Regions from separate parts of the Homo sapiens genome. Here regions 2, 3, 4 and 5 are each linked to region 1. Evidence: fine-mapped expression QTL. A gene starts in region 1. Each other region holds a variant in brackets. All regions are shown on one strand. Distances are between the middles of the regions. Region 1 holds the start of ARL4C (ARF like GTPase 4C). Region 2 has its middle 17 kb from the start of LINC01891. Region 3 has its middle 31 kb from the start of LINC01891. Region 4 overlaps TRPM8 (transient receptor potential cation channel subfamily M member 8). Region 5 overlaps LOC105373933 (a long non-coding RNA gene).

The links.
Region 2: its variant is fine-mapped to the expression of ARL4C in whole blood (INTERVAL, PIP above 0.99).
Region 3: its variant is fine-mapped to the expression of ARL4C in whole blood (TOPMed, PIP above 0.99).
Region 4: its variant is fine-mapped to the expression of ARL4C in whole blood (TOPMed, PIP 0.92).
Region 5: its variant is fine-mapped to the expression of ARL4C in whole blood (TOPMed, PIP 0.97).

What each region holds. Positions count from the first base shown.
Region 1 is chr2:234,493,999-234,500,322 of GRCh38, forward strand. ARL4C (ARF like GTPase 4C) reads right to left here and starts at 3,083. Exons shown (of 2, transcript NM_001282431.2): 1 at 2,014-3,083; 2 at 1-1,838. The coding sequence starts at 2,588. The coding sequence ends at 1,808. RefSeq lists silencers at 2,661-2,760, 2,871-3,160 and an enhancer at 3,345-4,118.
Region 2 is chr2:234,434,919-234,440,082 of GRCh38, forward strand. No RefSeq gene overlaps it. Among named protein-coding and RNA genes, the nearest start is that of LINC01891, 17 kb to the right of the region's middle. The variant G/T (reference allele first, on the strand shown) is at 2,402.
Region 3 is chr2:234,420,438-234,426,761 of GRCh38, forward strand. No RefSeq gene overlaps it. Among named protein-coding and RNA genes, the nearest start is that of LINC01891, 31 kb to the right of the region's middle. The variant C/T (reference allele first, on the strand shown) is at 2,604.
Region 4 is chr2:233,987,982-233,994,305 of GRCh38, forward strand. The region is part of intron 21 of TRPM8 (transient receptor potential cation channel subfamily M member 8); the gene reads left to right. Among named protein-coding and RNA genes, the nearest start is that of SPP2, 60 kb to the right of the region's middle. RefSeq lists an enhancer at 2,546-2,595. The variant G/A (reference allele first, on the strand shown) is at 2,648.
Region 5 is chr2:234,289,005-234,295,328 of GRCh38, forward strand. The region is part of intron 2 of LOC105373933 (a long non-coding RNA gene); the gene reads right to left. Among named protein-coding and RNA genes, the nearest start is that of LINC01891, 160 kb to the right of the region's middle. RefSeq lists an enhancer at 1,959-2,008. The variant G/A (reference allele first, on the strand shown) is at 3,134.

The DNA of each region.
Region 1 (6,324 bases):
ATATAAGAATTGGGTTTCAAGCAGGAAGCCAGAACTTCTGCCTCTGGTTCTTAAATTAACATTCGGTGTGTAATGGACAATAGGCAGGGACTCATAATTTGACTAACTCACATGCTCAAGCATGATCGTGTCCAATTTCTACAGGCCTCCTTTGTAAAGAAATGTGTAACAATGGGGGGAAAGTCATAATTCTACCTGAAAACATGGATTGTAAGAGGAAATAAAAAAATCAAACAGTATGTTTTAAGTTTCCCTTTTGATACTGTGTTTCAGGGTAAGTGACAGCTTCTGCAAACCAAGACTCAGTCCTGATTATAAAGGATTTTTAAAATTACATTATTAAAAATATGTATTTATTCTTCTTTCACTTTATCTATTTTCCAAAGCCTCTTTCAAGTAAACTGTGAAGTGCCTGAGTACCAGTGACCATGACGTCACACTTTCTTTTATCTCAAGCACTCATTGTTGTTTGCATTTGCCCAAAGTGCTGGCTGGCTCCGAAGGCCAGTTCCCACAAGAATGAATTCGGAAAGACTTCATCCTTGTGTTTTTCCTTCTCTTTTAATTCCATGCAACGAGGTCAGCTTTTGCAACAAGGTGGGGTTTTATTTTTTTGGTGCATGACATCAAATACTCTAACGAGACATTTTTAATGAAAGACTTAAACCAGATAGGCCACAATGAACCAAATTAGAAATCTGAACATGTCACCACTTGCAGCATAAAGGAATATAAAAGGGCAGAGCAAAGTCTTTTTTCCTAAGGTGAATATTTCTAAGGTAAGTATTCATTTGTAAAAGTTTTTTTTTTTCATCATGTCTGAAAACCCATTATCACGCGGTTAGTATTACAAGAGACATCCCTTGGTTAAAAAAAAAAATACCATCTTGCAATTCAGCACACACCTGCAGCTGGTGTGCTCATCCAAACCAATCAGTAGGCTAAGAGAATTTAAAATTCCATACATATGAGTCTAGGTATTAATGCCGATTACACAGTACACAGTACAGAGGGAGGTCCCTATATCCACACACACACACACCCCATCCAGCATTTACACCAAAAGCCTTACCCTTTAAACACCTTTAACTATCCTGCAAACAGTAAATGCATCATTGGCCACCACCTCCAATAGTTCGTCTTTTTTTTTTTTTATTTTTTTTATTTTTATTGGTCTCTTTGTGTGATAATGACCTACACATGGACAGGGTCCAAACCATCTGGAAGATGTCTGATTCCAGGCTGAAAAGCAGTTCTCAACAAAACTGGTCTTCTGCAGCCACCACAAAGCACCAGGAAAAGGGCACCTCCGCGGCCATCCCCAGCCAGGCCAGCACAGCGCTCCGTGCCCGCTGAACCGTCCCAGGCAGTCCTCTGATGACCCAAACCACCACCACCTTTGGGCCCAGAGCAGGACAAATGAAATTTCAACAGGGGCCTGCCCTGTGACCGAAAATTACTCAGCTTCACAGCCCCTGAATGCAAGGAGAGGTGGTCCCCCCAGAACCAACATGCCCCCCAAGGTGGGTACGCCCACGGTTCTGGGAAATGCATACCTCAGGTAATTCACAGGTGCGATCCCCCAGTGGAGGCGGGGCAGCCTGAACTTCTGGCCCTGCAGGAGTGGGAAGAAATCGCTTTTGTCTTTCCGACAACTGAGCCTTCCACCTGGGGCTGGGAGGGCGGACAGCAGGACCGGCTCTTCCACTCCCCACCGCGGCCCCCCGACCTGGTCAGTAGCTCTGGCGTTCAGACAAAAGGTCCCCTGAGCTGGGGGTGGGGGGCAGGTCGAGAGTAGGCCGGTAAATCAGACTTCGCAGCTCCTTAAGTCACCAGTCCTGCATTTGGGTGCAGAGATTCCGTTTTAAAAATTCGAAGCATCGCTTTGGTTCGCTCTTTGTTCGCGGGCGCGGGTTCTCGCTCATCCATCCATCCATCCATCCAACCATCCATCCATCCATTCATTCTTTCTTGACGCACTCGCTCGCTCCCCGGTCGCTCCGGGCGCATTACCGCTTCTTCTTCTGCTTGAGGGACTTCCTGCGTTTCAGGATCATCTCATAGAGCTTGTCCATGCCCTCGGTGAGGCCCTCGCCGATGATGGCGCACGCCGGCTGGACGTGATAGGTGGTGGCCGGGATAAGCTCGTGCAGCGCCAGCTGCTTCTCAATCTCTGCCACCGGCAGCGACTTGGGCAGGTCCTGCTTGTTGGCGATGACCAGCAGCGGCGTGCCCTGGTTCTCGGCGAACTTGGTCACCTTGTGCAGCTCCGTCTTGGCCTCCTCCAGCCGGTCCACGTCCACCGAGTCCACCACGTAGATGATGCCGTCCGTGCAGCGGCTGTAGGACTTCCACAGCGGCCGCAGCTTCTCCTGGCCGCCCACGTCCCAGAAGTGGCAGCTGATGCCCTTGGCCGTGCCGTTGCTCAGCTTGATCTTCTCGGTGTTGAAGCCGATGGTGGGCACCGTGTTCACGAACTCGTTGAACTTGAGCCGGTAGAGCACCGTGGTCTTGCCGGCCGAGTCCAAGCCCAACATGACGATATGCAGGGACTGGAAGGCCGAGATGTTAGAGGAGATGTTGCCCATGGCTCCTGGCTGCGGCGCCAGCCACTGCGGCTGCGGCGGGAGGGCGCCGCCCCCCGAGCAGTCACGGGCCCGACGCGGCCGGGCGCACCTGGGCCCCGCCCGCCGCCGCCCGCACCGGCCCCGGGGCTCGGCGTCCCCGCGGGCGCACGGCTTGGCGCGCTCAGACGCCGCAGTCCCCGCGCCCTCGCCGGCCGGGCTCGCGATCGGCGGGCATCGCGTCTCTACGCGCGGCTTTGTCTCCCGCGAAGCCGCCTCAGATGTTCGGCGCCCTCCCCAGGCCTGGGCTCGCTCTGTGGTTTCCTCGGGCCGCGCCCCCGCGCTCCGGCAGCTGCCCGGGCTCTCCGCTCTCCCGGCGCCCGGCGCTCGCCTCTGGCCTGGGACGGCGCTGCTCCTGCTCCTGCTCCCGCTCCCGCTCCCGGAGCGCGGGCTTCCCCGGGAGTCGCTGTCCGCTCGGCAGCCTCACAGTCCCCGCGCCGCCGCAGCAGCCGCCAGCCTGCAGCGGCCGGAGAGCTCCCGGACCCGCCCCCTCGCGCCCCGCCCCGGACCCGCCCCCGGACCCGCCCCGGGCCCCGCCCCGCCCGCCGCCGGGGGTCAGGCGCGGTCCTCCCCGCCCAGCCGGCCGTTTTCGCGCGCTTCGCTGCGTCCCCGCCGCCCCCCGCCGCCCCCCGGCCCCTCCCGCGCCGCGCCGCGCAGACACAATGGGCGCGGAGCCGGCTCTTCCTCCCCAGCGGCTGACGCGTTTGCAAAAATAGCTCTCGGCTCCCGGAATCCCCGCCCGGGTCCTAGCCCGCCCCCTGCCCCTCCGGGCCGCAGCCGTGGGCGACGCAGCCTGCCTGAGGGAGTGGGTCCCGGGGTCCCAGCTCTGTGGGCGCGAGGCGGGGCAGGGCGGCCCCCAGGGTGACTGGGAGAGCGCCGCTCTGGGGAGTGAGGGCGGCGAGGCTGGGGCCTCCAAACCCCAGAAGGGACGGGACGGGGCTGGCCTCGGTGAGCTGCCAGCCTGCGCTCTGGATCCAGCCGGGCGCGTCCCCTCCCACCCTCGCGCCGCGGCTGTCGCCGGCCCCGGCCCCCAGTGACGCCCAGGCTCGCCTCCTGCCTGGGTTCCAGGGGGCTGCACCCGGCCAGCGCCGCCCTCCGGAGCCCAGGCCTGTGCCCAGGGCACCCTGGAGGCCCAGCCTTTCTTGCCCGGTGGCGGCGGTTGGGGCAGGGTCGGACCTAGGCCGCGATGGGGGATTAGAAGACCTACCTGCCCCAAGTAGCTCGGACAGCTCACCCTCCCAGACACGCCTGGGCTACCTCATTTCGTCCGCATCGACTCTGCTGACATCCCAGGGGAAGCGTCAGCATTTCGGGAGAGCACCCCTTGCCACCCGACTTTGGGAACTGAGAACCACCTGCCCGCAGGTGAACTACTCCGCAGAAATGGCAACACCAGCCCCGGGGGCTGAAAGAAAATGTGTCTACAGCTTGGAGCTGGTGGCGCAGTGGGTTACAAACACTGATATTCCACGGGTTCCACCTCCTGTCACCTCAGTTCAATGGTTTTATTCTGGTTTGTAAACATGTAACAAATGTATATCCTCTCTGGGTGCGGAGAAAAGTGAGAGTATATTATGGCAAACACACAGATCTGGGGAGAGCTGCTCCGCAGGAGACAGCAGGCCGCAGCATGGGCGACCGCATCTTCCCAGCTCTAGCTTATGAGACAGAAACGACGGAAACGGGGTCAAGGGAGAAGAAAATGAAAATGCTAAGAATTTATGAATAAAAGCTAGAATTTTAGAGAAATACTTTATCACCTTCTGTTCACAAACCACGAAAAGACATATGATATCGTTGGTACCAAAGCATGTGAGAAGACCTCACCTGTAGAAGGAAGGACAAGCCACCACCACCCCTATCCTTGGAATTCCCAAGGTGGCAGCCGGAGCGACCATCCACTCTACTGAGTGGATTTGGGGCTGGAAACGAAGTATCAGGCTGGAAAGGACCCTGCCTATCATTCCACCCAACGTTGTCCAGTGAGGTAACAAGGCCTAGGCGCCCGTGACGGCTAAGGCAGAACCTAGAGGCCCACTGCCTGCTCCAGGACCAAGGGTCTGTATGCACAAAACTGGGCACCTGCCTGCCCTCTTCCTCACATCCCACTCTACCCACACGCTATTTCCTTCAATGAGGAATAAAGTGAGCCACCCGAAGGATAGAGTTCAACAGAAAATATTGGCTGCACTGTGCCACTTACTTCATTTTAAATAAAAATGGAAATGTATTCACTGACATCACTGAAAAGTTAAGGATAAAGGTCCTCTTCAGGCATGGCTAGACCCAGGAGCTCAAAAGGAGTCTTTCGAGCAGGTGTCTCTCCAGTCCTCCTCCGTGTTCCCCTGTGTTGATTCTTTTTCCTTCTGGCAGCCTTGGACTCACATCCTTGGTTTAGATCCTGGAAAGGAAAAGGTACAACTCTTTCCCAGTAACTCTAACCAAAGCCTGGAGCACGCACCCTGGATCAAGGACTGCAGTCCAGGAGGAGGGAACACACCAGTGGATGTGGCCCAGGGGTTGAAATCGGGAAGGGTGGTTCTCCAAGAAGAATCCAGGATCTGTCACCAAAAGAGCAACTCTAGTGAGGCAACAGAAACAACATATGTTGGCATAATTCATAATGATGATGTTTCCGTTATTGGGAACCCTGGGGAGACAGGATTTTGTGTTTTTGGAGTGATTTTCTTGACTCTCTTTAATGCCTGCCCCATAGATAGCCAGCTTCTCATGAGACTGTTTCTTGTTTCTCTTTCTTCTCTGCCACAGGCAGGGCCGAGGCTGAGCCCCAACCCAAGATGAGCCTTTGGTTTAGTAGCCTGGGACCTGGACATTTGGAAAGAGACAGATCAGACTGGAAGCCTCTCCATCCGGCTTCCACAGATTACCTTTGTGTTACTTCCTTTTCCCCTAGTCAAGACTTGCTTTAAGTTTTAAGGTGGTAGGAAGGAGATATTTTAGTAAAGTATCCGATGTATCTTTTTGGTGCTATGCTAATTATTACCAAGAGCCTCAGTGGTTTTGACTGCAGCCTCCACATTTTGCACCACCATGATGGGGTTTAGCAATAAAGGGCTGTCTGCTGTCCAGTAGGAAAAAACAGATTAATAGACATTAATAGAGCCTTCCAGAACACAGCCATTAAACAGCAACTCACCATAATTGAATAGCAACCACTCTACCTGCTAATTTCACTCACCAGGTGATAAGTTAATTTTACAGTTGATAATTTAACTTCTAACACATAAAAATATCATTTGGTTGAGTCGACTGGTAACTTTCCTTCAAATGTGGATTTTTATTGAAAAACACTGGAATTATGAAAAGGAAGGTAATGTTTACCACTCATATCAGACATGTAAGGCCTACTTTGAGCCTATTTCTTCATGGACATACATCATGGCTAAATTCCACTGAGTGGAAAATATTGGCTGCACTGTGGCACTTACTTCATTTTAATTAATCAGAAGGAGAGATTTTTTCAAAGAATAGCATGTACTTGTGTCTGCCTGAGATGAATTCCTCTTCCAGCAGCAGTGACATTTCAGGTCCTCTCCTTTCTATTCTTCATCAAGATGACTGCATCCAGAGAAGAACTCAATTATTTCAAGCAAACAGAAGGCAATAACTTGGCAGTAATTTTGAAATTGCATCCTAAAATATTCTCTTTTTTTTCCCTTTAAGGGCTTTGAAATAAAAT
Region 2 (5,164 bases), 60 kb before region 1:
AGCCCTTGGTGCTGCTCTGTCTGTGGAGTGGCCATTCTTTTATTCCATTACTTTCCTAATAAACTTGTTTTCACTTTACTCTGTGGACTTCCCCTGAATTATTTCTTTCTTGAGATCCAAGACTGGATCCGGACCCCTTTCCAGTAAGAGTATCAGCCATGACCCATGCAGGAGAAAGAGTGCTTATTTTCCTCCCCCGCAGAGACTAAAGAAAAACAGACATCAATTTTCACAGGCTCTCCTGTCTCTGATTTCCAAGAGCACCCTCCATGAGGGCTCCCGTCTATCCTATCCTTCACTCTGGCCCATTGCCCTTCGTAGCACTCATCCCCACCTGACTTTTTATAGACGTATTATCTGTTTTGCTCTGCTTTGTGGCCCCAGAGTGCAAAGTCCAAGAGAGGACAGCATTGTCCATCTATCCTCTGCTGTCATGTCCACCACAGCACTGGCACGCAGGAGCACTCAGTAAGAATCTGTTGAATAAAAATGCTTGTGGGCCGGGCATGGTGGCTCACGCCTGTAATCCCAGCACTTTGGGAGGCCAAGGCGGGTGGATCACGAGGTCAGGAGATCGAGACCATCCTGGCTAACACGGTGAAACCCCATCTCTACTTAAAAAAATACAAAAAATTAGCCGGGCATGGTGGCGAGTGCCTGTAGTCCCAGCTACTTGGGAGGCTGAGGCAGGAGAATGGCGTGAACCCGGGAGGTGGAGCTTGCAGTAAGCCGAGATCACGCCACTGCACTCCAGCCTGGGCGACAGAGCGAGACTGTCTCAAAAAAAAAAAAAAAAAAGCTTGTGTTTTCTTTCCTTTTCCTTCCCCTATTGGATTCAAACCAGAGGATTGCTGGCAAAGACTAGGAGAAACCGATGGTGGTAGTGGGGTGAGTGGCCACTGCTGGCCAGGCAGAAGGCTGAACCCTGTGGATTTCCTACATTGGTTTTTGGTGGAGTTGGTGTTTTCCTGGAATGGGCTGGGGGAGGCCTGCTATTCCTTGCAGGGTCTCTGCAGATCAATGGCTTGAGCCTTTGGAGGATTCGCCTCCCAGATTTCAGAGCTCTGTTATCTCTATCCCCAGCAGGGCCATTTCCACTTCCTGACACAGTGCCTCCCCACCCCTCCCTCTGACACACACCCAGAGTACAAAAATCCATTTCCTTTGCCCAACTACGGTTTTCCAGGTCTCCCCACGCTTCACTCCTTGGTCTTAAAATCCTTTTTGATTCCTTATGAATCTGCCTGTCTTTGGTTAAATACCACATAGATGGCTTTAATGTGTATTGTGAAAATCCATCTCGAGTGCTTCCAGAATATAAAAATGTGACCAGATCCAATGGAATCATTTCAGGAGAAGTAGGGCAGTGCCGAGAGGCTATTTTTAAACTCTGCATTCTGGTGGTTTGGTGACCTGCCTGTCTCCTGTTTTCCTGCCCAATGCCAACGCTGAAGGACTTGGTGCTCCAGTTTTGGGTCAGTTCATGGTGCCCGGTGGAGTCCAGCATGGCCCCAGTGAGCTTGGTGTGGGACTTTTTTTTTTATGGAGGAGCAAAGGTGGAGAAGCCTGAGAAGCTTCCAGGAGACTGGTGGGGAGGGATGCTGAGGGGAGGTACCACTGTTGCAGAGCAGAGACCTGGAAGTTGCTGCAGGGGCTGTGGGAGGGCTGAGGGGTGACGAGCTGCAGAATCAGGTTCCTCCCAGGCAGGCGGGTCTGGAGAAACCACACCAGAATGCCTGTGGCGCCGCTCCCCCCGAGTCCCTGCTCCTTCTCCCTTGCATAACAGGGCCCTGCATGTTGGCCCAGGTCAGTGCACACACTTGGGCTGCCCCACTGGAACCCTTAGGCACCACACAGTGTATGGGGGAGCCCTGGAGTCCCTGTGCTGGCTGTCCTGAGCCCCAGACCCCACACGGACACCGAGTGGGACGGTGCAGTCGCTCCACATCCCTCCACACAGAGGCCACTTTGTGGCGGGTTCCACCTGCCCTCTCTCTCCTTGACTTGCTTCTTTCTTTGTCAAGCAGTGCACTGTCTTGAACTCTAACATCAAAGTATTTCTTTGACCTGTCCTCCATCTGAGTATAAGTACCACAAAGACAAGCATTTGTTTTGTTTACTGCTTTTTCCCCGGCTCCTAGAATCACCCCTGGTATATAGTAGGTGCTCAATAAAGGTTTGCGGGGGGAAGAAAGGTAAGAAAGATGGAGGGAAGTCAAGAGAGAGGGAAAGGGAAAGAGTGGGGTTTGTTGGTTCCTCCTTGAGTGATACCACCCACCCTGGGAGAAGCTGAAAGCTCCACATGCTGTCCCTCCCCAGTGACAGGGACCATCCACGCTGTGGCCTCCAACTCAGCTGCCTCCCTTCATAGGCATCAGCCTTGGCTCTGAGCCTCACCCTG[G/T]CCTCTTCTCCCTGTGGGTGCCCCTGCTCATGGTACCCGAGGGAACACCACCAGCAGAGAGTGCAAGAAGCAGACCAAGTGAGGACCTTCAAGCATGCATAACCACAGGCACCATGGCACTGCTTCTCTTGGTGGAAGAGAGAGCAGGGGAGAGTGGTGTCCCCCGTATTTGGTTCCTATAAATTCTCCTGATCTGTCTGCATTCACAGGCTGGGAAAGACCCTCAAACGGGCTGCAGTGGCCACCCTAAGAAGTGTTCTTCTTCTGCTTCAGACCCATTTCTTTCAGGACCATAAGCAGCTCTGCTCCTCATCTCCCACGCTGTAGACAGGGATCCCTGGTTGGCACTGTTTTCTCTGTCCCTAGGATGCCCGTGTCCTTTGGCTGCAGGCTCCCACCACCCAGCCCTTGCTCCCTGCACAGGGTGGTACTCAGTGAATATGTGGTAGCTCTTCTTGGGTTGAAGAAGAGAGGGCAGAAGAAAACCTGCCCCTCCACTTGCTTTCTTGCAGTGGCTTGTCTCAGCTTGAGTGCTTCCCTTCCCAACTGACCACATCTGAGGCTTTGCTTTGTGCTCCATCCATTCAAAACCAAGCGACCAAACGATGCTTCCCTTGGGGATTTTCTTTAGAACAAAGACCATTTTCATCAGCACTCTTTTCTCCCGCTCCTGGGTTCCTTCCACCTTTCATGAACTGAGCCCCCTTCTGAAGTAAGGCGTGGGCACCCTGAATGGAAATGGCTAGATTAATGCGCATGCATGTCCACACTGGTGCAGGGCACCTGCTTTTCTGGGACAATTGCCATCTGGAATCAGACGCCTTCCTCATTGTGTGCCTATTTCTGGACAAAGAAGAGGAGAATTGGACGAGAAGCAGGCCTCCTCTCCCACATCCTCCAGCCACCTGGCAGGCCCGACTAAGACACCCGCTCCAGCTCAGGTGGTTTATGTGGCTCCAGTGAGTGGGGCAAGTGGGGCGTTTCATCCCAACCTTCTGCATAACAGCATTAGCAGATCAGACACTCAGGTCTGGGACAACATGTCCTGAAGGGCATCTCTGGGTTCCCCCTCCAGGGCCTTGGGTGCTGCCCTGCCTCCTCTGCTGAAGGCTGCCTACCCCCCACCGCCAGAGCAGCAGAGTTCCCTTCAGTAGCTTTCAGGGACTGGAAGGATAGTGGGCTGCCTCTCCCCACAGGTAAGGCTACCGTTGGTCTCCTGGCTCTCGGCGGGCTGGGGGCCCATCCCTGGATAGCAGCTACGGGGAAAGACATGGCTCTGGAGATGGAGGCGAGAGTCAGATGCTGAGACCTCCAACAATGTCCGCTTGTGGAGGCTTTACTATTTATAACACTTTTGTTTTCTACAATGAATAGATAATGCTTTTAGAACAGAAAAGTGAAACGTAAATCAACTCCGCAAGAAACAGGAAGCTCAAAATTTAGATCCGAATAAGTCTTTCCACCCAGGGCTGGTCTAGGGATAGAAGAAAGACTAATGTTTTTGGTAGGAGAGGAAATGGAGGTGAGGGGCTGTGCTGGAGAAGTCAGCCTGCGGGGGGCGGGGGCAGGCGGGGTAGAATTTCAATTCTGCTCTCAATCTTGTTTTCTTAGAATACAATAAAATATTTTCACATAAGATACTGGTCTGGAGGGCAGGCGTGGTGGCTCATGCCTGTAATCCCAGCACTTTGGGAGGTCAAGGCGGGTGGATCACCTGAGGTCAGGAGTTCAAGACCAGCTTGACCAAAATGGTGAAACCCCGCCTCTACTAAAAATGCAAAAATTAGCTGGGTGGGGTGGCGGGCGCCTGTAGTCCCAGCTGCTCAGGAGGCTGAGACAGGAGAATCGCCTGAATCCGGGAGGTGGAGGTTGCGGTGAGCCAAGATCGTGCCATTGTACTCTAGCCTGGGCAACAAGAGCAAAACTCCGTCTCGGTGAGGGGTGGAGAGAAAAGATACTGGTCTGGAGTGATTTATTTTAGAAATATCAGATTCTGTTAAGTTTTTTATAAATTGTCTTTGGGAGTGATTGAAGAAATAGTGCGATGTTTTGAATAATCCAAGATCTAAATGTAAACACAATTTAATAAAATTAGAGACAAGGAAAACTATACATGGGGAGACTATATTACTCTTGACAGGAAATCACTGTGTATGTGCAATTATATTCATGTATTTGTCATTTGTATCTATCATATATATATATATATATATATAACCTAGGGAAAGATACCATACACCTAATCAAATGAAAAGTGATAAATTGGAAAAATATTTTCAGCACATGTCAGACAAAAATATTCATATGCCTATTGTACAAGGAGATCTCACAAACTGATAAGAAAAACCGATGATCAATTAGAAGACAAGGTCAAGGGGAACAGCTCATGCTTCACTTGACTTGGTGATTCTTCAGTAACGAGGGATCCCATCCCATCCATATGAAGAGTTGGCTTCATGGGAACAGTTTGAACCCTTTTTGGTAATATGGGGAGAGGCCTGGCCCAGGGTGCTGGGGACCCCCAGTAGGATTGAAGGGAAGACTCTTGGGAGCACCCAGACAATGGCCAAAGGGGATCTGAAAGAAAAGTTTTCAGCAGCGAAGTCACAGGGGGATCAGGTGTCTACCAGGAGAATGTGGCTGGGCAGGAAGCAAGTGCACACTCTGGAGTGTAATTGAGTAGGTCAAAATCTGTGCTGTTGTTCCCTTGCCTGCAAAAATAATTCCCTTTCCCCTGTTCTCCTCCTTTTCGGAGGCTCTGTC
Region 3 (6,324 bases), 74 kb before region 1:
TGGGCACCATAGCCCAGCCAAGTGGAGACTTCAAATTAACCTCTGTCAAGGGTGGCCCCCAGAAGTGTGGTTCTAAACAAGGCAGCAAGGGGGAGAGCGGGGGTTGTGGGTGGGAAGGAAGGTCTGTCAATAGCAGCACCACCCAGTTCAGGAACAAAAAGCTGCTGCCTGGTTGTTAACCTCTGAACTCCATGGCTGCAGCCCCCAAGTTAAACTGCTCCTTACTAACTGCAAACCAAACATGACGTCAGCCTGCTTGCAGTGCAGAGGCTGCAAGGAGATAATATTTATAGAGAATTCTTTGATTTCCTGGAGAAAGGTCAGAATCTGAATTGATGGGAATATAACTTCAGAATATGTAGACTCTTGCCGGGCGTACTGGCTCACGCCTGTAAGCCCAGCACTTTAGGAGGTTGAAGTGGGTGGATTGCTTGAGCTCAGCAGTTCAAGAACAGCCTGGGAAACACGGTGAAACCTCCTCAATACAAAAAAAAATAGCCAGGTGTGGTGGCACACTCCTGTAGTTCCAGCTACAGGTTCTGGGACTGTTCTGCCCACCTCAGCCTCCCAAAGTGCTAGAATTACAGGCATGAGCCACTGCACCCGGCCTGTTATGTGGTTTCTTAAGAAGCTACTCCTCCAGTTCCGGCAAGGCGGCTCATGCCTGTAATCCCAGCACTTTGGGAGGCCGAGGCAGGCGGATCACCTGAGGTCAGGAGTTCGAGACCAGCCTGGCCAACATGGCAAAACCCCGTCTCAACTAAAAATACAAAAATTAGCCAGGCGTGGTGGCATGTGCCTATCATCCCAGCTACTCGGGAGGCTGAGGCAGGAGAATTGCTTGAATCTGGGAGGCGGATGTTGCAGTGAGCCGAGATCACTTCACGCCACTGCACTCCATCCTGGGCAACAGAATGAGACTCTGTCTTGAAAAAAAAAAAAAGCTACTCCTCCAGCATTTCTTAATTATTTCCTGAGTGGTCCCTGGAGGTTCCCTTTGTCCCTCTGGGGATGCTTGAGTAGTAATAATTGCCCTGCCTTGCGTTAATATTGAACGTTCAGATGGCTTCCATGAGCATGATTCCATTCTACTTTTTACATGATCGCCCCAGGACTATCACATTCAGGTGGTCCTAAATAGGGACGGTTTAACCGTTAAAAAAAAAAAAAAAATAGAAGTGTACCAGCAGAATGAGTATGATTGCAAATAACAGCAAATATCCGCTTGACATGGCTTGAGCAATAATGTATTTGTATTTAGTGGGTAGTGGCACATGCAGAAGTGAAGATAGGGGATTGCCAAGTCATTTTTTTTTTTTTGAGATGGAATCTCACTCTGTCGCCCAGGCTGGAGTGCAGTGGTGTGATCTCCGTGCTCACTGCACCCTCTGCCTCCCAGGTTCAAGGGATTCTCCTGCCTCAACCTCCTGAGTAGCTGGGATTACAGGTGAGCGCCACCACACCTGGCTAATTTTTGTATTTTTAGTAGAGACAGGGTTTCACCATGTTGGTCAGGCTGGTCTCGAACTCCTGACCCCGTGATCCACCTGCCTCAGCCTCCCAAAGTGCTGGGGTTACAGGCATGAGCCACCGCACCCGGCGAGTACCAACTCATCTAAATGGAAGTGTGCTCAGATAGCAAGCAGGAGACATGGACTTCTGTGGCTTCCCATGATAACTGGGTTATGAGGACCAACTTTAAGCCTATATGTCAATCAGTTTATATGAGGTTGGACTGATTTCTACTGTGTGCAGCCTCTACAGGAGCATTTATACTGGTTTCCTTTTTTTTTTTCTTTCTACCTGTAGATATCTTTAAGATAAACAAGCTGAACACCATTAACTATGGTAACCTCTGCCATGCTGTCTCTGTTCCTTGAGATCAGATAGAGCCCGGACAGCAAAGAAGCACGTGGCCCTGATATTAAGATACAAGCATGCCAACAGCTTGCATTAGTATTTGTGGAATGGATGAGTGAGTCATGATATATTTCCCCAAGCTTCAGCTGGGTGTGTTTTTCATGTAACCATTACTCATAAAGTGTAAAGGTCAATTATGTTAGGAAGGAAGGAATGATTTTTGTCATCCATGCATAGGACACTCAGGTATGCTTCCCTGAGCTTCATGGAGCATGGTTCCCTGAGCTCACTCCTGCAAAGGCCACGCCTATTCATGAATGTTGACATTAACCAGAAGGTAGGGACTGTATATGTGAATTGAGCTTAAATCTGAGCTGAGGAATTCTATGACAAGTAACTTCAAACACGTCACTGAGTTTGAGTTTACCATAATGCATAAGACTATTTCTAAAACTTGTAATTGCTTCTGTTTATTTACAGAGTTTGATGCATATTTGAGCATTTATTTACTTATTCAAAATTCAAAAAGTTCCAAGAAGTATAAAAATGGCTGAACAGTGGCAAGAATTTTAGAAACCATAGAAAAAAACCCGACATTATTAGGGAACAAAACAAATAGACTAGGAGATAAAAATGAAGTTTTGTGTTGCAGAAGCTGGCAGGGATCCCCAGTGAGAGAAAAGAGGTATCAGGATGAGGAGAATGATAACCACAGCCTCATCACATAGGAGAGCGGCTGCTTC[C/T]GTCAACAGGGTGTGTGCTCACAGCTTCAGGTCTGCACCGCACAGCATGATGCTGAGACAGGAGGTCAGCACGTCACATAATTACAACTATATTCTTGTAGATGGCAGGATAATGGCATCCCCCCACCCTGCCCCCAAAAGATGTCCATGTCCTAATTTCAGGAACCTATGAATGTGTTATATGACATGGTAAAGAATTAAGTTTGTAGCTGGAATTAGGGTTGTCAATCAGTTGACCTTAAAATAGGGAAATCACCTGGGTTATGCAGGTGTACCATCACTAGGGCCCTTAAATGCGGAAGGAGGCAGAAGAGACAGGTGGGCGGGCGCGGTGACTCACACCTGTAATCCCAGCACTTTGGGAGGCTGAGGTGGAGGATTGTTTGAGTCCAGCAGTTTGAGACCAGCCTGGGCAAGATAGTAAGACTTTGACTCTACAAAAATAAAAAACTAACCAGGCATGGTGGTGCATGTCTGGGGTCCCAGCTACTCAGAAGGCCGAAGTAGGAGGATCACTTGGGCCCAGGGGGGTTGAGGTTGCAGTGAGCCATGCCACAATTTTGTCTGCACTGCAGCCTGTAGTGCAGAGCGAGACCCTGTCCCCATCCCCCACCAAAAAATAATAATAATAATAGACAGGTCGATGAGATGTGACAAAATATCAACCCTCTGTTAAGGCCACCAAAAATAAAAAATATTAAAAGGACACACAGCCCTGCCAACACCTTGATTTTAGCTCATGCCAGACTTCTGACCTTCAGAACTCTAAGATAATAAATTTGGTTTGTTTTAAGCACCACATTTGTGGTAATTTGCTACAGCAGCAATAGAAAACTGATACAATTATATTAATAATTTTAAAGACGGCATATTTTGCCAGGTAGAGTGAATCATCATTTTGAATGACTTTGAATCCAGAAGAAAATTTATGTAAGGAAAGGGCTTAATTGAAAACTAAAACATGAAAGTTCTTGGTGGCTGTGAAGGTTTTTCCTAGGACTGGAAATCCCCTGGGCTCCCCTCACACTTTGAAGTCAACCTAATTGGAGGGCCATGCCTCGATCCTTTCGGGAGATAGGTGTCCCTGTTAGAGTCTTCAGGTGTATGTTATACTTCAGGTGTCTGCAATTACCTTACCCAGGCCTATAAGCTCCTTGAGAACAGGGAACGTATTTGTCTAATTTTCAGGACCAAATGCAACATCCAGCCTCTAATTGGGGCTTAATAGGTATTTGTTGAATAAATATTTCCAGTGTCATTGATGCAATATTCTGACAAGTAGAAAGATCAAAGCTGGGAAGACGGGGGCTGGGGTGGAAGGAAAATAAATGACGTTTTGATTTTTTAAAGGAACAAAACTTTAGATAAGGCCAGTTTCAAATCATCTTGGCTTTGTTGTGTTTTCATCTCTCCAGAATTGGACTTCTGTGCTCAATTCAATGAAAACACTCAGAGCACAGATTGGGATCACGGACTTATTTTCAAAGCATGTTCCCACACATATTAACAATTGCTCAAAATTAACTGTAGCATCTGTTTAAAGTTGAATCAAATTGAATTCTCTATTTATAAAAATGGAGTTTACATAAGAGAATGGAAACCATGTACAGACATTTAGCATGACACTTCTGCTTACACCATTTCAACAAATAAAAAGAAATTATTGTTCTGGGAGAAATACACATTCCAAATCTTTGTAAAATGAAACCCTTCAAAATTAGGAAATGGAACAACTCTTTTTTTTTTTTTTTTTGAGACAGTCTTGCTTAGTCATGTTGCTCAGTGCAATGGCGCGATCTCGGCTCACTGCAACCTCTGCCTCCCGGGTTCAAGCGATTCTCCTGCCTCAGCCTCCTGAGTAGCTGGGATTACAGGCACCTGCCATCATGCCCAGCTAATTTTTGTATTTTTGTAGAGATGGGTTTCACCATGTTGGCCAGGCTCATCTTGACCTCAGGTGATCTGCCTGCCTCGGCTTCCCAAAGTGCTGGGATGACAGGCGTGAACCACCGCACCCCACCAGAAATGGAACAACTCTTAATGAGTGACATGAGCTACCAGATAAAGGAACACTATATAAATTTCAGGGTCCAGGGTCCTAGAAGTGCCTGGAGCTGAGCCCCTGCTCCCCAAGTCTGTACACATGCACCCTGGGTGCTCAAGCCACAGGCCCTGTTGTAATGGGAAGAGAGAATTCCCTCTTGCAGGAAAGCGGGCTACAAAGATGAAGGGTGGTGGGTGGCAAGAGAGGCCCGGACACACCCTGGGCCCAAGCCTCACTGGTAATGGTTGGAGGGTGGTGGGAAAAGCCATAGGAGATTCTGGGGGAGGTCACAGGGATGGGGGTGAGAGCGAGCTAAGTGGTAGCCAGTGGCGGGGCCCCTGGTGGTTGGGTTTTATTGGGAATGAGGCCGGGCAGGGAGTGACTATAAGACCCAGCTGGTCGTGGCAGAGGTGGGAAGGGAATTTAGGGAACTTGCTCTCTTGGCTTCATGTCTGGGGACACAGCACGGGTGAGGCTGGTGGGTGGGTTGACCTGCTGGTGGTCCCTTCAGACCCCTGTCCCAGTTAGTCCCTGGGGACCCGTCCCTTTGGACCTGACTCCTTGGGGTTGAGTTTCCCCTTTCACCTGGCCAGGATTTAGCATCTTCTTCTGGAGGAATGAGGAGGTTTGGGTGACCTGCCTCTTCCTCTTTCACCTGGCCAGGCTTTAGCATCTTCATCTGGAGGAACAAGGAGGTTTGGGTGACCTGCCTAGTGCCAGGGCAGGACGACTGCCACCCTGAGTCATGTTCTGCTGGTGTCTTTCAATTAGGCAGGAAAGCTCACTTCACAAGGAGCTTCTGTGTCACTGGAGTTATATGGAAATGAGGACATCAACGCAGCCCTCAGGGGCATGCGGGAAGAAGCAGAGGATGGGCCAGAGAGGGTCCTCCCTACCCTCCTCCCAGGTTTGGCCCTCTAGGCCACTCTACCCACTGCATACAGGGATGGGTGTGGTGCCCAGTTCCTCACCCTCTGGGACATAGAACTCCACCTACCCACAAAACCCACTTCCTCAGAAGCGTTAGGGCTGCCTCGGTGCCCTAACTGCAGGTGTGCAGGGCGGGGCTGAGGAAGAGGCAGTTAGGGCTGAACCCAGCAGGAGGGAAGCAAGCTCGCCCAGCTCTAGGTTTCTTGTGAACCCTCAGGACCTGCCTTTGGAGGCAGGTCCTGAGACTGCTGGAAGAAATGAAAATGATGACGATTACAAAGATGAAGGGAGAGAGTGTTAATGAATCACAGATCTTCCTTCCCCTATCAGGTCACCTTGTGTCAGTTTAACAATGACCACCCCCCCCCCAAAAAAAAAAAGCCACACACACACACACTGAGAAGGGAAACACTTTGTTTTTCTGCACTGTCTGAGCTCCATCAGATAATGGAACTGCTGAGCTCTCTGTTCTGCCACTCCACATTGATGGATTTCATGGCAGAGTAACACTTTGGAAATGAAAGTTTCTCTTCTACTTCCTAAGTGAGGGAGACCCAGAATCCAAGAAAGGATCCTTGGCTCAGGAAATCATCTGCCATCGGTGGCCAGGGGCAGCTGGAGCGTCAACATCTAACCTGTGGGAAGATGTACCCTCTGCAATAGGCCCCTCTGCCCCATCCCCAGAAGTCCCCAAAAGTTTCCAGGAGTGTCAACAGATGGGGGAGGGATCAGCCACTCTCACCCTCT
Region 4 (6,324 bases), 510 kb before region 1:
TTTTTTCTGTAAATTGCCCAGTTTTGGGTATGTCTTTATCATCAGTGTGAAAATGGACTAACACAGTCATTGTTCTGCTTAAAATTCTGGAAGGATTTCAATATTTCCCTACAGCATTCAGGATAAATTTCAGTCTTCTCAGCTTCCCCACCATGCTCATCCCCTGCTCTCTGTCCCCCGGCAGGCCTCCCATATGCTCCTCTTTAAACAGGGTGAACTGCTATGCCTGATGCTTTGCACATACTTGTCCTCTGTCTGGATTGCCTGTTCCATCCCGAACTTCTCTTCCTGCCCAGTTTCTGCTTGCCCTTTACAGAGCCAGGAATCATCTTTTGCCAGGGTGGTACCTGATGGCCTCCCCACTTCACACAGAGACTCTTTGAGCCCCTATGGCACTCTTTTACTTGCATGGTAACAACCTTCTCTCCTTGAGAATGGCGAACTCTGGAGGGTGAAGATTGTGCCCGCCATCTCAGCACCTGTCACTTTGTGGGTTTATTCAATGAATGAAAAAAATGGGTTCTTACCCATGTTTAGTTCATTATTTAGTTATTAGGAGCTTAGCTTCCTGGTGTATTATATACTGAGAAGCACCAATGGTGAGTAACAAATCAGCAAGAGAATCATCATGTAAAGGTTTAACATCTGCTCTGTGCCAGGTGCCTGGGCCATGAAGATTATGTGGCTGCTAGTTCCACATGGCCCTAAGAAGGGAAGGGGAAACTCTCCCTCACCACCTAGCTGGTGGCAGGGAGGGACTTGAGGATCCAGAAGCCTGTCTGACTCACAGGCAGCCAGCCAATGTCATGATGTCCAAATAGTGTCCAAAAGTCAGAGGGGCCAACATCTGAGCTGCAGAGAGAAGCAGCAGGTTATGGGTGATTATGTCTCCACAAGAGAGGGAGCAAAACAGACCAATCCCAAAACCTGAAGCAAAGGCGAGGGCGAAGTGGGATGGCTTCAGGCTTTTCTTTACAGTGATAAGATGTCATAGCTACACTGGATAGTCCTGTAAGAACTCACCACTAACTATATTTACAGACATTAAACAAAAAGACCAACAGCTCCTAAAACCATGGCCTTTGAGTTATGCTAACTTGGTAAATCTCAACGAGGCACATGGTAAAATATTTAGAGCTTTTTTGAATCTATGCACATGAGCTGTCTGAAGGAGCCATTCATGAGAACCGGGCACTTTTGTAATCCATTACCTGCATTTTGATAATGAAATGATTGAATTTGGAGCTGAGAAAGATGGGAGCCTCGTCTGTCACTTTCAGGTGAAGGAGATGAAGTCCCAGCAGCTCAGCGTCTGTGGTCCTGGCCGCGCGTTATCTGGCTTAACTCAGGTCTCTTCCCCACGAGGCCAGAGCCACTGCATCACATCCTACTGTTGCCCCAGTCAGTGCTTAAGTGTGACAGCTTGCAACATCCCTGTCCTTGGGGAACCTCCTCGATTAGCTCCGGCTTAAACCAGAGGCCTTTTCCTGGCTAATACCTGTCTGGGGACACCAGAACAGCGAGAGACGCCGTGTTGTTATCCTTAGGTTAAATCCTTGGAACACTGTTTCTGATCATTTTTAAAGTTGTTCAGGGCTTACTCTGTGAGCAGATGGCCCCAGGATGTGACCCTTCCCTGGCACCACATCAAAATACTCATTTAAAAGCTTAACCATACACAATGGCAACCTTATTAACTGCAATGCAAATGTACCTTTGGGAATTCTGAAGGAGTATTGGAGTGCTCTCTAGATGGTATTCAACAGAGAAAGGAAATGGATGTGAACATCTGTGATTATTCTACATTAAAATTATCGATCACAGGGCCTGTGTGGCTTATCAGCGGCAGGAAGTGAATTTAAAGTCAGTAAATGACTCCAGGTCGACTTACCAGGAGCTAGGGCATTTATAAGCATTGTGCCCTGAAGATAAGTTCACCCCAGGCAGTTCTGAAAAGGACTCGTCAAACATGTCCTGCTGTAGAATAATTTCTAAAAATGTTTTTCAGATCTTAGGAGTAATATAAACATGCAGAAAAGTAGAAGGAAGAAAATAATGACCTGATACAAACTAAAGGTTTGAGTGCTGTGTGAACAGTCTAAGGGAGGTTATTGAATTGGGGTGAAAAGAATAGAAAGAAGAGCGCAGATAATTGTAATAGTAACAATAGCTAATATTTATTGAAGCTTTCCCATGCTGGGCACAGGTTCAAGTGCTTTACAGGGGTCGCCTCATTTAATTATTACTCATTTCTGTGTAGGTGTGTAGCCGGTGGGCTAGTTCAGGTTCTTGACTTTGGGACAGAAAATAATTTGAAAGTGAGTCAAAAGCAAAAGCAAGCAAGAGAGTTGACTGCAAAGCCAAAGTACACTCTAGCAGCCGGTCAGAACGGGCCACTCAAAGGCAAGACAGCTCTGTCTAATACTGGGGGATCTCCCTTTATGGGAAATTTGCATGATTATTCATGAAGGGGTGGTAAGGGGTGTTGCTATTAAGCATGTTAGGAGTGGTTTCTTAGGTCCACATGTGCAGTGGCTGTACATGCTAGTACATCCATCGCATGTCTTATAAGCATTTTAAATCTCCACCTGGGGGTGTGTTTTTTACTATTATAATGAGCACAGGTCAGCCCAAGGACACTAATCAC[G/A]GGTTTCTGTGCTTGTACAAATGTGGGGATTTTTCTCTTCTGCTCCTGCCTTTTTGCTGTAGGGTGTTCTAACCACGAGCTCAGGATGCGGTCTGTGCACTGTTAGGTGGTTTGTTCTCTTCATCAATTTGACAAGTTTCTTGTTTCCTGTCAAGGGAGGCTCTGACCACCTCATCTAACCTGCCTCAGGTGCAGCCTTATTGCCATTTTACACGTAAGGAGTGGGAGGCAGAGAAAGGTTAAGTCCCTGATATTAAGGGAAGAGATGACATGGAAACATATGAATATAATATATATAATATAATGTAATACAAACAGCATGGAGAGGCTATTTGCAGAGGAGGGAGTTATTAATTGTGAGATTGTTGGCTGGGGGAGCCTAGGATCTGCAGCAGCAGCTAGGTGGAGGTGATGTTTGCTTGAAAGATCATGTACCCAGAGCCCCAAGTGTTGGTAGGAGAGGTAGAAGCAGGGGAGATAATGTTAGTCTAGGGAGGAATCAGCAGCCGGGGAGGGTGGAAATGTAGGCAGGGGCTAGGTTATGGAGAGTCTTTTATAGTATATTAAAGAATTTGGACTTTTTCCTGAAGTTGAAGAGAAATGTCATGGGTCTTCGTGCAAGTATATGGCACAGTCTTAGTTGGTTATTCTGTTAGCAATATACTAACCTGAATTATCAATTCCAAAATCAGTGTGATCCAATCGCTTGTCATCTCTTACTGCTGGCTGTTGTTGGCTTTGTACCTGCTTTTTTGATGTTGCAGAATGAGAGGGGAACCAGGATGTGTTACACAGTTTAACATACACACCAGCGCATCAGAGAGAGCGAAAAGTCACTGTCACCACGGGCCATGGGGCAGTACTGGCTAGATACTGCCTGTGTGCTGGGGAAGGAGCGACAAAGGAAAATCCATGAAATCTACGCAAAGTTTGGAGGAGGTGTCCATCTGATAGGGAATTAGCTGACAAGTTTCTTGTATTTCAGTGTATTTGAAAATTCTGCCATTGTTTTAGCATCTACTTTTTCCTTGTGAATTTTTTGCAGACTTTGCATTCTGTTCTGTGGATCTGTCTTTGTATTTTGGTTTTTACTACCAAATGGCTTTGATTACTGAAGTATTTTTTTCTTTTAGGCGTTCTAACATCTGTTGTACAAGTTTCCCTCATTATTCTTATTCAAAACTTTTCTGGCATTTCTTGTATATTTAATTGTACAGAGGAGCCTAAGGCTTATCTTGTGGATTCTTTCTTCTTTCTCCTTCCCCCAAAAATTCTTGTGAATATTATTATGATGATGTTAGGTTTGTAGAATCATTTAAGGGAATTTGGCATCTTACTATTGAGAAGAAATGCTATGATTTTCATTTATTCAAACATATATAATTTCCCAGTAAAGTTTTATGGTCTTTTTCATATGGATCTGGCAGATTCCTTGTTAATTTGTTTCCAGCCACTTATGGTAGGGGGAAAAAAGTAAGGTACTTTTTCTATTATGTTTTTTCAGTGACTACGTTTTGGTACGTAAGAAGGTTATTAAAGTTTTCCTTATTTATTCTGGAATGAGTCTCCTTACTAAATTACTTTTCTTTTTTTTTCTTTTTATCATGTCATGGAAAGTTCCTCCTCTTTTTTGTTTATTAAGCTCCTTTCTCTTTCTCTTCCTAATCAGAAAAGGATGTTATATGTTGCCAGAAGATTTCTAGCAGTTATTGAAATGCTATTTTTCCCTTTGATCTAGTATTATGATGCATTGTACAAAAGATGAATGACATAAATGTTCTTAATATTTAGTCATCCTATTCCATGGTCATGGTGTGTTATTCTTTTAAGGTACTTCTGGACTTCATTTATGTACAAAGTGATCTGAATTCTAAACGTCTGTTCCCTCTTGGTACCATTTCCACTCTCAGTGAGTTTCTGAACTGCTGTCCCTCTGCATGGCCTCTCCTTCCTCCTCCTCTCCTGCTCAGCTGGTTTCAGGAGATGGACCTCAGCTGTCACTGCATGTCTCCAGCCAGCTAGGTGTTTGCCAGGGACAGGACGCCAAGGGCACAAGATATCGCTGGAGATGCACAAAGGGAAAATTGCAGAATTCTCTCAGGGACAACACCAGATGGCCACTGGTTGTCAAGGAGACTTTAAGAACCATCTCAGATGGGGCGGGTGAGACCCTGGGCATGAGAGATGGTCTCTAAGCTGCTACAATGCTTGCTTTGCTGAGGGGGTGTGCACGTGCTGGCCCAGAAAATCCTTTTCTGCAGAGTTCAGTCTCCCCTTTACAGAATTTGAAAACAATGTCTACAGAATATAAACATTGTTTTAGGAAAGCAGGTGGAAGCATCGCTCCATTAGGAGCCCCCCTCTGGAGAACCCTCATGTCTATTTGGCTGAGTCCTGGACTGACTTGAGAGAAAAAGAACATTTTGGAAGCTGCTGCCATATGGGTCAGCTGTACCTCGGTGTATAAATAAATCTCAGCCTAGCCAATCCTGAATATGCATTATTTATGCAAAACGGCTTTTGGGTATTAATGTCCAGTTATCAGCTGGTTCATTCACACCCCCTGGGATGCCCATAAGAGTTCTTGCTATTTGTCTGGGAAAGCATTGCTGCTCACTGGATCCACCTTTGCCCTTGAGGTACAGAGGAAGCTACTCTTCCAGCAGGAGGGGCCGTGCAGTCAACCCAGTTGTCCTGAGGAACAAATGATTGGTGACCTATGAGGCAGAGCTCTTTAAAAGTAGGGAATGATACAAACACAAAGCCTTATTCATGGGCACTGGCCTACGTGCACTGTAGCTCAGGGATCACAGACTTTCTCTGTAAGGGCCAGCTAGGGTCATTGGTCAGATGTGTCAAAAGAAGCAGTATTCAGTGATGCTGTACCCACCTGCACCTCCCTGCTTTGTAAAAGCCATTCTTAGCTCATGGACTGTACAAAAACAGGTGGGGGGCTTGGCTTGGTCCCAAGTTGCAGTTTTCCAATCCCTATTTTAGATGATCTAGAAGACATGTTTTTCCCTGACTCCAAGTGGCCACTTAAGCCATGGTGCAATAAATCTCTTCCTACTTGGACTCTTGTGGGCTGCGTTTCCACTCTGAGCTCTCTGAGGAAGATGGGGGGCCCACTTGCCAGAGAGAATGCTTTCCCCTGCTCTGAGCATCCTGGAAGTTTCTCTTTTCAATAGGACTTATTGCTTCCTTTGGAATAATACCTCAGAAAACAACATCAATGCACAAAAATGGATGCAGTTGTTTTGATTTTTTCTTTGGTGTTAGAGTTTTGGGAAGTCAGTATAATCCATTTTTTGACTAGATATATAGTCAAAGATTTCTATTTCCTTTTTTGAAATAGAGCATCTATTTCTTTTTTGGAAATACAACATTGCTTAAAGTATTTTCACATTCATCTCTTCTTATTTTTAGGTTAAATTCCCCAAACTCGAATATTTCAAGTTACTTCTAGGGACAATAATTTGAATGGTAATAGTTGTTCTGGCCCAAGTAGTAAACTGATTTCTGGCAAGTTCTTAGCCTGAACTTCCCTAATCGGGGGCTGCTGCATGCACACGTGTCTCGTTGCAGCCGCAGAAACATGCAGTGCATTTTGTAGGCAACAGAACCAGCTGTGGACTAGAAAGGGTGGATGATGATGCTTGCTATTAGCCTCAAAGCAG
Region 5 (6,324 bases), 200 kb before region 1:
CACCATCACCTGAGTCAAGTGCCTACACCTCTCTGTTCCCTACGTTAGGGCCCACGACCAGCTGAGCCTAACATCAAAAGTTCCCTCTGTGACCAGAAGAGGGCGCGGTGGTGCAGGATGGGCGTCCCAGGAAGGCCAGGACTTAGGTTCAAATTCCCGTTTTGTCCATTCCTGTAACCTGTGAAGTTCACGTGGGTAACATGCGTGTGACAACACCTCATCACGGGGTTCTTGCGAAATCAAATACAACAGTGACATACAAATGGCTTGCAAGCTGAACTCCTGTGACTCTGAGGGATTACCAACTTCTGTCAATACTTTATTCAGTGTTGAACCCCCAGGTGATGCGTGGCTCACTTTACCTGAACCTTCACCTCCCAGAGAGGTCTTGGCATCTGCCTGCTTGTAGGGACTGTGGCCCCTGTCCATGCCCTGCTCCTGCCCTTTGAGTTCCAGGGTCTGTCTGCTGTAAAAGCCTGCTGGACTCTGCTCCTGACTCAGTTTGACCAGCTGGCTGGGCTCTGGTGTGGCCCACAGCCTAGGAGGAAGGATGTTGTGTCCCGGCCAGGTGCTCATGGGCTCAGTGAGCAGCACTTTGAACTCTAGGCGCAGTAACAAGGGCCTCCCTCATGACCCCTCATGACCAAATGAACCCTCGACTCTGGGGAGTGGTCCTCATCTTGCCACTCTATGCCTTTATACCCAGACCCAAATTTCCTCCAGGGCAGTGGTCTGTTCTTACCTGCCTTTCCAAATGCCAGTCTTCCACCCTAAATTCCAGTGTCCATGGATGGGGACCCATCACTGCTGTCCAGGTTCCGAGTCACCCTCCTGCCTCCATTTTCACCACATACCCAGCCCAGCCCAAGAGATGGGACCTCTCTGATGGGAGCTCTCAGGCCTTTGCTTTGACTCTGACTCAGAGCCTCCCCGGACAGTGGTGCAGTGTGTGCACTGCTCACCCCCAGGCAGTGTTGCTCATACTTCAGTCTATAAAAAGCAAGGCAAGGCCTGAACAGCTGCAAACAGCAGCCCTGCTAGGGCATAGCTTTCCAGCTGTGATCCAGGCATGTGGCCCTGGCTGCTTCATGAAAGGCCCTGGATCTGAGCCCTGGCCTGGCCTCTTCCAGATGTAAGATGGGGAAGAGCTCAGAATCTCTCTGAACCTCCATTTCCTTAACTGTAAAGTGAGGGGCTGGATTGCTTGATTTCTAAGCTCAATTATCTAGACATGCCAAAATGTACTATCTACCTGATTCTAGAATCTCTCAAACCTGCCCTAATCTGCCTGTACCAATGGGCTCTGGAGAATGTCCTGATGTCACCAGATTCATGCCTGAGATGAAAGCCTTAGGATTCAAGAGCCCAGCTCTGTCCTTCTCCAATGCAGCCTCAAACCTCCTGCTGTTCCTGGCCCCGTGCTAGCATCCCCTTCCCACCATCACAGGATACCCTAAAGGCCCTGATAACAGACATTTCCATATTACTGGGCTCACGCCTTCATGGTGGACCTCCTGGAGGTGGGCATAGCCCATGCCCAGGTAGAGAGGAGCAGGAAGGCATGGGCATGTTTGGGGAGGTTGAGAGAGACCAACCTGGCTGCATCAGATAGAGAGCACCAGTGGCTGGTCTGGCTAGGAATCCAGGTCGGGGCCCTAGAGTGGCCACATTTACTTGCTTTTGCTAAGGTAATTTCAGGTTTGGTAAGGCAATGAGTGAAGATCTGTTGGGCAGGTGGTCTCTTGGTGCCCTGTAATCACGTACTTGAGTCTGCCTCCCTCATCTCACCCCAGTGGTGACTCATAAATCAACACCAAAGCCAGTTACGCTGCCATCCGGCAGAACTCGTGCCCCAGACACCTTGGGAGGAAGTGGAGCCAGAAGTGAGAACACTCTCTGAGGGTGAAAAAACTCCAACAGTTCTTCTGTTCTCACGCCGCGCCACAACAATCAACACAGAAGGCTTCTACGACCAAATGTGTGGGGATTTCTCCCCACCACCGAGCAAACTGCCCAGACATGGACACCGGCATGAACTGGGGGTCCTCCAGTTAAGTTCTGACACTCTCTACCTGGAGACAGCGTCAGATCCCAGGGGTTGGGGGCTTAGTCCCCCAAGACCACCCCTGACCTTCAGACATCACTCACTAGTACAGGCCTCGGGAACTTCTGACAACCAGCTATAAATTGATAAAGACCCCCTCTTTATTAATTTGCTAGGGTGGCTCGCAGAACTCGGGGAAACCCTTAGGTTTACCATAAAGGATGTTACAAAGGATACAGATGAAGAGATGGATAGGCGAGGTATAGGGGAAGGGGTGCGGAGCTTCCATGCTCTCCCTGAGTGTGACTCTCTCCGGGAACCTCCATGGGTTCAGCTACCTAGAAATTCTTAGAACTGTGTCCTTTTGGGTTTTCATGGAAGCTTTGTGACATAGGCAGGATTGGCCATTGATGGTCAACTTAACCTTCAGCTTTTCTCCCCTCCCTGGAGTTCAGGGTGGGGCTGAAAATCTCAACCCTCTAATCCTGCCTTGGTCTTTCCAATGACCAGCCTCACCCTGAAGCTACCTAGGGGCTGCCAGCCATCAGCCAACTCATCAGCATTCAAAAGTACATCACTTTGGAGATTCTAAGGATTTTAGGAGGTGTATGTCAGGAAATGGATTCAAAGGCCAAATATTTATCTCATAATATCACACTCCTAAACTCATAGGACACTGGCAAGGACACCAAGCTCAACTCCTCCCCATTTCTGAATCCCTGGGCTCCATGCTGCGCCTATGGCTGCTGCACAGTTGTTCTGAAGGGGCCCTGGCCTGCATGTGCCTGATGCACACAGCTGGAGGGTGTCCTGCAGAGATGGGACCATTAGCTGGCAGGCATGTGTGGTGGAGGGGACAGGGGAGCACGTGCCATAGTTCGATTTATTTTTAGGTATGTGGGAGTCACTAAAGGCAGTAAGCAAGGGTGTGATGTAATCAATTGTGCATTTTAAAGTGATTGCTCCAGCTGCCTGTGGAGAATGGATTGGAGAAGGGCCAAAGGGCACTCAGGGGCGTCAGCTGGGAGGCTGTGCTACAGTTCCCAGGAAGGATGTGGCTGCAACAGTGACAGAAAACACATAAACAGG[G/A]CAATGGACTATAGGGTGTTCGTGCAACCAGACACACCCAGCCAAGAGTATCTCACCTCCTGCAGGTCAGATGCAGACACCCTCTAACCACTGGCATTTTGGCCTCTGGAATGAGCCTGGTGGTGATAAAGTCTGGAGGGCCACAGGTGACCATATGAGCCACAGGATGCCTCAAGACCAGAGACATCCTCGCAGAATCAACAAGAGGAGAGCAAAGGACAGGAAGAGACTCAGGCAAAACTTTTGTCTGCACAACCAATTCCCATCTTCACCACCTGAACGCCACCCCAGATGACATATATGGGGCTGCTTTTGCCATCCACATGGCTAGGACAGTGTATCTGTAGTTGTCAACAACAATCAGAGGACCATATCAATTAAACCAGGAACTTTTCCATGTCGTTTCGACTGAATCATATAAAGGTAGACAACATCGCACTATGTTGGTGCACAGAGCACTCTGAAATGATTCATTTTTCGCTCCTTTGAGGCGAAGGCAAACCTACAAGCAGAACAAACCGCATCCGGAGAGGAAGTGATAAAGCTCAGAGGAGCAGCAAGAATAACCATGGCGACAATCTTGCAATTTAGAGGCTGCAAATAAGAGAGATATTTACTTTGGAAATGCAACTGAAAAAAAGAAAAGCTGCAATGACAACAGCATAGCAACAATCTTCTCCTCTGGGCTCAATGAAAAAGAAATGACAAGACAATGAACCATCTCCAGGGGCTGTATGTAAATCCAAGATTTCCTTTTGACATAACAGTGTGAAAGATCATCAGTGAGGAAGGTGAATCATTCAGGCTTTTAAAATAGCTTTTTATTTTGAGATCTTGTAGATTCACCTGCAGTTGTAAGAAATATTATATTCTGTGTACTCTTCACCCAGTTTCCCCCAGTGATAACACTTTGCATGAGGAAATTGACATTGAAACAATGGTTCAGTTTTGAGGAAGTATCAGATATCAAAGAGATACTTTGTCATGTTTGGATAAAAATGTAACACTTCTGTATTAAAAAAAAAAAACTAAAATTACAAGAAAACCAAACAGGAAAAAAAAAAAGCTTTTTTATTAATCCTAGCAAGGAGTTTATTCTATACAATGCGTATGTTCACATTTACAAGAAAAACAGTGGCCTTTGAAAATATTTTGATGGCCTGTAGAGTTATAACCAGAATCACTGCAATGCAGTAATATTTAAAGAAATGTATGAGGCAACACTGGATGAATTTACTGATTGAGATGTCATTGTTTTGAGGAATTATTGTTTGTGGCCTTTCTGAAATCCTCCATCACTACCTTTTACATTCAGGAACTCATCAGGCCCTTCCAGCATTACATTATAAGAAATATAGTGTATCATGCCTGTAATTCCAGCACTTTGGGAGGCCGAGGCAGGTGGATCACCTGAGATCAGGAGTTCAAGATCAGCCTGATCAACAGGGTGAAACCTCATCTCTACTAAAAATACAAAAAAAATTAGCCAGGCATGGTGGTGGGTGCCTGTAATCCCAGTTACTCAGGAGGCTGAGGCAGGAGAATCACTTGAACCCGAGAGGCAGAGGTTGCAGTTAGCTGAGATCATACCACCGAACTCCAGCCTGAGCAACAAGAGCTAAAACTGTCTTTAAAAAAAAAAAGAAAGAAAGAAATATAGTGTATCTTTTTCCTGATTCATTCATTCAACAAATATTTATATACTACTATTGGCCCACTATTTTCTTTAGGGGAAAACAGGAATGGCCCCCCCAGAAAGCCCTCTGGGGAGCTGAAATTCTAATCCATTATTGGTTTTGTCTCAACTATAATTGCCCTTGTTTAGAATTTCATCATCTTCCAGAGGAGTCGCCCTCTGTACAGTCTTTCCCCACCCCTCAGTTTATTCTCTGCATTGCTGATCCTTCCTCAACAGACACTGCTAATTATGTCAGGTTTAGGGTCAAAATCCTTCCCGAGTTTCTATCACTCACGCCCCCGACTTCCACAGGGGGCAGTTCTGAGCTCCTCTGTGGCTCTTAGTCATCCATCCCCTACCTTCCTGTGTACCTCCTCATTCATCCACCTTCTTCTCTGCCCACACAGCTGGCCCAGGCTTCCTGTCCAGGTGCATGGTCCTCCTGTGCCAGGGGATGAGTTGGGGGCTGGGTTGGGAGGGCTCCTCTTGCCTTTCTGCCTGAAGAAGCCCTACTCATTAACCTTTAAGTCTAAACATGACCTCTTCTGTTGAATAAAATATAGAAAATTCCATTTAGTGGGAGATTGCATGGAGATCACCAAATAACTATCTATTGATTGGATTAATGTGCTGTCATTCTATTATGAACAAAGTGATATGTTTGTTTGTTTCAGCATTGTATCTTAATGCCTGTGATGCTGTGACAATGTAGCAACAGTGATTTCTTTGGAGTGGTGCGTGGAATCCACTTAGCACTTTGTGTTATTAATCTTTTTTTTTTTTTTTTGCTGAAAATAAAAGTCATTGTAAAAAATTTAAAAATTAGAAAAAAAATATGGAAAAGAAAACACCAAATATCCAGCGTGTAATATTGCAAGGTTTGGGCATATTAATATTTTCTTCCCTTTTCCCAGTACTTTTATTTACTCTACGTTGATTACATATACAATTTAAACTTTTGTGGTTGTTTCCACTTAAAGTATATTAAAATGTTTTAAGCATTTGACACAAGCTGCCAAATGGATTTTCAAATGGATTGTAAAATTTTATTTTCCCAAATCATTAGATATGAAAATGTATGGCTTTCCTACCACATCTTCATAATAGCTAGCATTAATTACTAGTTGAAGAGGCAAAATTTGGTATATTTTCTTCACCTTTGTTTTTCTTTGAGTCTTAGGAAGGTTGACTAAATTGTCATTTCCTTTTTTTTTTTTTTGAGACAGAGTTGCACTCTTGTTGCCCAGGCTGGAGTGCAATGGCACAATCTCGGCTCACTGCAACCTCTGCCTCCTGGGTTCAAGTGATTCTCCTGTCTCAGCCTCCTGAGTAGCTGGGATTACAGGTGTCCACCACCACACCCGGCTAATTTTTGGTATTTTTAGTAGAGATGGGGTTTCACCATGTTGGCCAGGCTGGTCTGGAACTCCTGACCTCAGGTGATCTGCCCGCCTCAGCCTCTCAAAGTGCTAGGATTATAGGTGTGAGCCACCACGCCCGCCCAATTGTCATT